Linked DNA regions of Homo sapiens. The protein of the gene in region 2 interacts with the protein of the main gene of each other region in a pairwise test. Each region holds a gene or a part of one and is shown on either strand. Other genes may lie near its edges.

Evidence for each region.
Region 1: the proteins of RSRC2 (region 2) and NAV1 interact in binary tests that used the Homo sapiens proteins (3 or more experiments, as listed by UniProt).

What each region holds. Positions count from the first base shown.
Region 1 is NC_000001.11:201,537,422-201,541,333, forward strand, and holds the start of NAV1 (neuron navigator 1), read left to right. Parts: upstream 1-1,705; 5' UTR 1,706-1,921; intron 1,922-2,597; exon of another isoform or gene 2,598-2,724; intron 2,725-3,912. UniProt on the Homo sapiens protein: May be involved in neuronal migration.
Region 2 is NC_000012.12:122,506,222-122,510,133, forward strand, and holds part of RSRC2 (arginine/serine-rich coiled-coil protein 2), read right to left. Parts: intron 2,230-3,912; coding exon of another isoform or gene 2,227-2,229; coding exon 1,997-2,226; intron 703-1,996; coding exon 613-702; intron 1-612.

The DNA.
Region 1 (3,912 bases), on a different chromosome or scaffold from region 2:
CCTTTGCAGGACTGGGAAGAGCACAAAAGGATTCTAGCTAGCACATCATTGAATGCCAAACTGGGCGCAGAGTTACATCTCCAAGAGTTAGATCTCCAAGAGTTAGATCTCCAAGAGTTAGTTACTCCAAGATCAAAGTAACAGCTAATGTTCACTGAGCATTTACTATGTGCCAAGCACTATTCTAAGTGTGTCACCTATAGTATCGCATTTAATCCTCCCAACACTCTTAGGAGATAGGAACCATTATTATCCCATTTTACAGATAAAGAAACTGAGGTAGCTAGAGGTTAAAGAGTTCAGTAAGTTCCCATGGCTAAAAAATCATTGATCCAGGATTTGAACTCATGCAGTCTGCCTTAAGAGCCCACACTTCTAGTCTTTATACAGAGGGTAAGGGTGTCACTCTGCAGTCCACCCCCTTATCCCGCGCCAAAAGGCAGTTCACTCCCTTCATGGACAAAAATCATACAACAAATCTTTTTCCCTGATCAGTTGGGAACTTCTTGAATGTCACTGCTTGTCCATTGTCTGGTGTCTCATCTCTCCAAATTCAAAGCCACTGTGGCCTTACTGACTGTGTGGGGCGTTCAGGGAGGACTCAAGGGCTCTCATCCTGACTCTGCTCACACTGATTTTGCTGGCAAAGAGCTGTGAGACCTCCCAGGGAGTAGGCAGTTTTGCTTTCTATCCATCAGTCCTCCAACTTGCAACCCCATGGCCCTGGGAATAGATCAGTCCTCTTATTTGTTGGCAGGAGCAGGGGAATCTGCTGGGTCCTTGGCCACAGCTACTCCCTTTCCAAAGCCTGCTTCAAAGCTCAGGTCATCTGGCTTCCTTCTGCCTTCTTCCTGCAGACCCTGGAAGTCCCCAAGCCAGGAGGCAGGGGGCTTGCACTGCTTCTGCAGTAGGTTCTGGCTGAGGGCCTTCCTCCCATTCACTCTCCTCAGGTCCTGTCATTTCCTCTCTCCTCTTCTTCCCCCTCCTCCCACTCCCAAGTCCCTGGAAGAAGGAGGAGGGGCATCGGCTGTCTGGAAGGTGGGGAGAAGTCACTTATTTTACTGAGCACCTACTATTTGCGGGGCACTTGCGGGGCCTCCCCCTCCTCTAAGACAGCTCAGACAGCATGACAGTTCAGTGGGGTGGAGAAAGAAAGGAGGTGGGTGCCCGGGGTCAGAAGTCGGGTGGAGAGGCTGGCCCATCCATCTGTCCCCTTCTCCTAAAGAACTGCGGCTGAACCAGCGAGCGGTACCCGGACGACATGTGGGGGAGGGAGGAAACCCGGCCTGGAAGTGGCGGTGGCGGGTCCCCGGGCAAAGGAAAGGCTCAATTGTGCAAAGGCTTCCTGCCCTGCCAGCTCGCGGGTCCGCCACCGAGCAGCCGCCTTTCTGCGGCCAGCCTGGGAGGCGGGACGGGAAGGCGAAGGCAGCAAAGGGTTACGGGAATAGCTTTCCAATGACAAAGTCTGGAAGGGACCCATGCCTCCGCCCCTCTGCGGGTTAAACTGGCACAGTGCAGGGGGAGGAAAGCCAGGGCGATCGGACGGATTCTCTCCTCCTGCCCGCCCCCCGGCCGCCAGGCACTCCCCTCCTGGGCCCGCCGTGGAGGCAGCCGGCGTGTGCCTGGGGCAGCGGGTCACGAGGCTCCGCCCCGGCCGCCGTTCCCGAGGGGACGGCACTTTGTTCAGGATGCCGCCTCCCTCCTCATTGTGGGGCCGGGGCCGGCGGCTGCCCTAGTGCGGGGCCCGAGGCTGGAGTGCGCGGCGGACGCCAAGCCTGGTGCGAGGGGCCGAGGCGGCCTGGGGAGCCCCGGGAAACTTTGTGCTCGCGAGAAGCGGACCCCGCACCCGCGCTGCCCTTGGGGATGCGCGACTCTGCGCGGCTGCGGCGCGGACCCGGAGCCCGGGCGGGCAGGCGCTCCGGTGAGTGGCCGGCGCGGGGCGGTCGCGCGGTCGCGGCGCTGAGGGTCTGGCGCTTCCCGTTTTGCGAGGCTTGGCTGGCAGGTCCTGCGAGGCCGAGACCAAGTCTCGGGGTAGGGGAGGTTGGTGCCCGAGGGAGGCTGTGGGCTGGGCTCGGGAGAGGCGCTGGAATAAATAACAACCAAGATGCTCGCGGCTTCCCGGGAAGGTGTGTGCCCTTTCGACCCCTATGGGACTGACTGCGCGTTTGATTCTAGAGTTGACTCTCCGGGGGGGCTGCCTAACTTCAGTCCCTCTGAGCCTCAGTTTCCTTGTTGTGAAATACCCACAATTTAAAGTGCGTTGAGATCTTATCATGAGACACCAGGTGCTGCGTTCTTATACTCGCACCCACACGGCAAGCACACACCCTACCCGCACCTCTGCCTTTCGTTGAAGCAAGAGTTAACTCCTCCCATCCCAGCAGGAGCCAGAGGAACAGCTGGGGCAGGTGACCTCGCGGGCCGTTCCAGAAAACGTTCCCCGCACCCCCGGGATGCGCCGGGAAGCGCCCTCCCGCCAATCTCCCGGAGGCCGTCCTCTCTGGCGCCCGCCCAGTGCGTCTGGGAGCGGAGAAAGTGGTCCCGGAGGAGAGGGGAGAGAGGAGAACGCAGAAATTGGGTGATCACGGGGAGCTCACCTGAGCGCTCCCGAGGCTTGGGCTCTGGTCCCTGCTAATCCCCAGAGCCGATAAAAACTGGTCATAGGATAAAGAAGCAGCTAAGTTTGCAGCGGGCAGAGGGGAGGCAGGAACTGGAGAGGACGCGAGTGGCGGGTGGCGGGGGCGGTGTGTAGGGGTGACGTCCACCCGGCAGAGAGGGTTCCTTGTCCCCTGGAGCCGAACACAGGAAAATCAGCTGGTGAGTCAATGGGACTTTGTTAGGATAGTCACAGGGCGCAGCTGGCGCCGGCTTAAGGGAAGAGCTGGATCCCCCCTTGATAACATGCTGTTTATCTGGCTTCCTGTTTCAATGATTGGGATACCATTGGCTCGTTCAAATTCAATGCTGAGAAGCCTGTGGGCACGTTCGTTCACTGTGCAAAAGCAGAGGGCTTGCCTGGGTTTTCATCTGTGGGCTAGCTCTTGTTCCCCCTACATGAAGTCCCCGGCAACTCACTTGTAATGGGACTGGAGACTTCGCAAAAAGAATGGCCTCCCCAGGAGGAGGATCTGACGATCTGACACTGCAGAGACCTTGGCTTCCTTTAGGCCAGAGATATATATGATTCCAGCTTGCTTATGACATTTTTTTAAATCCTGCTTTGACTTTTTGTTGGTGTGTCTTTGGGATTGACCTAAGAAGGGAGACAGAGGGAACAGCTCTATGGATTTTGTCTTCTAAGATGAGCTTCCTAGTAGTATGTGCTTTCACCATCAGTTTTTAGGGGAAGTTTTCAATCATCAGTTTGTAGTTCTCTATCTGGCTGTGTTGCTAACCACCTGGATGATCAGAGAGCAAATAATTCCTCATGTCTCTGTCCTGGTTTTCACTTCTGTAAAGTGGAGCCAGGAAAAAATCGCTACGGTTGGAAGAATAAAGAAGGTTTTTCAGATTTGGGCTCCAGCCCCTAGGGTCTATTTCCTGAACTTTCCAGGTGAAAGAGAACACCAGGTGAAAGAGAACACCATTTCCGGGTGAAAGAGAACAGCCCCTGATCTGAACTTCTTCAGCAGTTTATCTGATTTCCCTTGGGGCAGGTCTCACATTCTGCTTTGCATTTTTTGTTTTTGTTGATTGTCAGTGTGCCATGCTTTGTATTTTAGATATTTGGGTGTTTGTGCACATGCCTATCTTCCTGTGAGTACCTTCCAGCCAAACACCCTATCTGACCACCCACAACACTCAGCACACAGTAGGCACTTTATAGATGCTTGCCAAACTAATAGAATTGGGGAGAAAAACTAAGTAGCATTCAAAGGCCTCCTATCTCATTTAAGTGCCATTTATTCATTC
Region 2 (3,912 bases):
CTAAAAACAAAAAACAAACAAACAAAAATATACTTTTGGGATATGTATTTGATCTCAATAACTTAATTTCCATTCATTATTGAACACCTCCAAAGGACAAGGCAATGTTCTTTCTAGGTCTGGAATATAGCAGGGTGTAACAAAAGTTAACTTCAGTTTAGTAGGTTGGAAAAAACATAATATGTAGAAGATGTCAGGGTATAAATGCCACAGAGGAAAGTAAAGTAGAAAATGGGGATGGAGGCTGGGCGCAGTGGCTCAGAACTGTGATCCAGGGCTTTGAGAGGCCGAGGTGGAAGGACTGCTTGAGCCTCGAAGTTTAAGGCTGCAGTGAGGTATGACTGCACCACTGTACTCCAGCCCAAGTGACAGAGCAAGCAGAGCAAAACCCCGTCTCTCTCTCTCTCTCCAAGTGTGTGTGTAGGGAGGACAGTGGGTAGGGGAGATGGAAATGTTTCAGAATGGGATTGCTTGTTATTTCACAAAAGGTGGTGGGAAAGAACTCAAAAACGCTGACACCTGAGTAAAGACCAGAACTAAGAAAATGAGGGAAGAACAGTGCAGGAGGGCTAATAGCTAATACAAAGATCCCCTGGCACATGTGAAACTCACCTTAATACCCATCAATTTCCTAAATTTGACATTTTGGTCCTTGTTTCCAAAATTCAATTTTTCCCATATTTCAGCAGATTGGGATTTGTCCTGTTAACAAACACTGAACTTTAAAATATGTAAAATTTAAATATTTTTTAGGACATGAAATCTCTCAACAATGTCTAAATTAAAAAAAAAAACACCATGGATAGCATTCAATCAATGTAAGTTTAATTATTTCAAGACTTAAGAAACCACAAAGCAAAGAAATACAAGCAAGAGGTTGGCGCCGTGCTTCACTCCTATAATCCCAGCACTTTGGAAGGCCGAGGTGGGCAAATCACCTGAGGTCAGGGGATCGAGACTAGCCTGGATGACTAGGTGAAACCCCGTCTCTACTAAAAATACAAAAAACTAGCCTGGCATGGTGGTGGGCACCTGTAGACCCAGGAGGGTCTCAGGAGTCTGAGGCAGGAGAATTGCTTGAACCTGGGAGGCAGAGGTTGCAGTGAGCTGAGATCACACCACTGCATTCCAGCCTGGGTGACAAGAGCAAGACTCTGTCTCAAAAATAATAAAAATAAAATAAAAAAATGGATTATTTTCCTGTCATAGACCTTTTTCAACATGCAATTTTTGCGACTGCATGTCATTTGCATTTAATGTCATTTGTCATTGCAAATAATGTCAAAAAAAAAAAAGTACCTCATAATCTATGAAAAATTCTAAACCAAGTAGCCTCTTTTCCTTACTACTTCTATGGTAATATTAGTTTTCTTTGAAAGCTTGACTTCAATCAATTATGTTTTATTTTAGTATTAATAACTGGCAAATAAGACTATCATAGCTTATTATAAGTTTTTTGAGACAGGGTCTCACCCAGGCTGAAGTGCAGTGGCGTGATTTTTTTTTTTTTTTTCCAGATGGAGTTTCGCTGGAAACTCACTGCAACCTCCGCCTCCCAGGATCAAGTGATTCTCCTGTTTCAGCCTCCCAAGTAGCTGGGATTACAGGTGCCCACCACCATGCCTGGCTAAGTGGCATGATCTTGGCTCACTGTATGTAGGCTCTGCATCCCAGGCTCAAGCGATTCTCCTGCCTCAGCCTCCCAAGCACCTGGGATTACAGGTGTGTGCCACCACACCCAGCTGATTTTTATCTTCTTTTCAGTAGAGACAGGGTTTTGCCATGTTGGCCAGGCTGGTCTTGGACTCCTTACCTCAACTGATCCGCTCACTTGGCATCCCAAAGTGCTGGGATTAAAGGCATAAGCCACCCGCGTCTGGCCACCCCAGGTTCTTACAAAGTTAAGCCGAAAGTAATATTTTTCAACCCAAATTTGTTTTTCTAAGCAATTACTAATTAGGAATAAACGACAGAAAAGCAGAATAAGAGAACTTACCCCTTCTTTCTTGCCCTGCCAAAGCATTTTCCTTTTTTTCTCTTGTTCAGCAAATTTCATTGGATTAACAGCGGCTGGGTTATAGTAGCTAGGAACAGCTATTCCTGTCTCTGCCAAAGCTTTAGCTTGCAGGGCTGCCATCTGAGCTGCCATGGCTATCTGAGGTGTTACTTGTGTTCCTGATGCCAACAGGGCAGCAACATTGAGAACAGAACCTCCAGTAGCTGCAGCTGCTTGAAGAGAATACAAAAATGGATTTTAAAACGATTTTAAAACATAAACCTCCTGATTTACATTAACGAACGATTTATAAAAAGCTATGAATGTGCAAAAAGGCAGGATTTTCACCAAATCCAAGGAAATGACTGAGTATTAGCTCACAAGTTTTTAGCAAACATTTATTGTGTTCATCAACGGACATATTTCTACATAAACCCTTGATATATAAACCATTTATTGCAAGGCGCAGTGGCTCACGCCTGTAATCCCAGCACTTTGGGAGGCTGAGGTGGGCGGATCACCTGAGGTTGGGAGTTCGAGACCAGCCTGACCAACATGGAGAAACCCCGTCTCTACCAAAAATACAAAATTAGCCGGGCGTGGTGGTACATGCCCGTAATCTCAGCTACTCGGGAGGCTGACGCAGGAGAATCACTTGAACCCAAAAGGCGAAGGTTGCAGTGAGTCGAGATCATGCCACTGCACTCCAGCCTGGGCAACAAGAGCGAAACTCCGTATCAAAACAAAAAAAAAACCCATTTATTTACTTTGAGGATAGAGAATTCTGCAAATAGTAAGAAAGTATGATTTCAGTGGAGATGAACTATAGTGTTTCTAAGGTATAATTACAAAACAATAAAACCTTGTATTTTTTTAAATTTATGAAATGTTCTCATGGACATTTCATTTGATGCTCACATCATATACTTGAAAAACAGTATGCAGCTAAGGCTGGGCGCAGTGGCTCACGTCTGTAATCCCAGCACTTTAGGAGGCCAAGACAGGCGGATCACAAGGTCAGGAGTTCGAGACCAGCCTGGCCAACATAGTGAAACCCCGTCTCAAATAAAAACTACAAAAAAATTAGCCAGGCGTGGTGGCAGGCGCCTATAAGCCCAGGTACTCAGGAGGCTGAGGCAGGAGAATCACTTGAACCCGAGAGGTGGAGGTTGTTGTGAGTCAGGATTGTGCCACTGTACTCCAGCACAGGCGACAGTATGAGCCTCCGTCTCAAAAAAAAAAACAAAAACAAAAACAAAAAAAAACCCAAAAACAACAACAGTATGCAGGTATTATGCTAAGTCCAAGTTCAATAAAGCCCTGGTATTTCCACTGTGATTGAGCAGTCCTCTGTAAAAAAAGACACCTCTGATTACCTATTTTTGTCAGTCCAGAATATAACCTTAAAAAGTACTTAAATTACCAACATTATGGGAACCAGAGTTACCAAAGAGAGTAATGATGTAGTAAAAATAAAATGGCTATTTGTAAACTTTTAGAGTTTCAAATAAGTGCCACTGTTTACCAAAAATGTAAAAAACAACAAAAAACCATCTTCCAGATTAAATTTCATACCAAATCAACAGTAAGCTCTTCGTGATAATTTTTTGTTTTTTGTTTTTGTTTTTTTCTTTTTCGTGAGACAGGGTCTCACTCTGTCACCCAGGCTAGAGTGCAATGGCGTGATGTTGGCTCACTGCAACCTCTACCTCCCGAGTTCAAGCCTCCTGAGTAGCTGGGACTATAGGCACACACAACCACGCCTGGCTAATTTTTGTATTTTTAGCAGAGATGGGGTTTTGCCATGTTGGCCAGGCTGGTCTTGAACTACTGACCTCAGGTGACCCACCTGCCTTGGCCTCCCAAAGTGCTGGGATTACAGAAGTGAGTCACTGAGCCAGGCCTGATAATTTTTG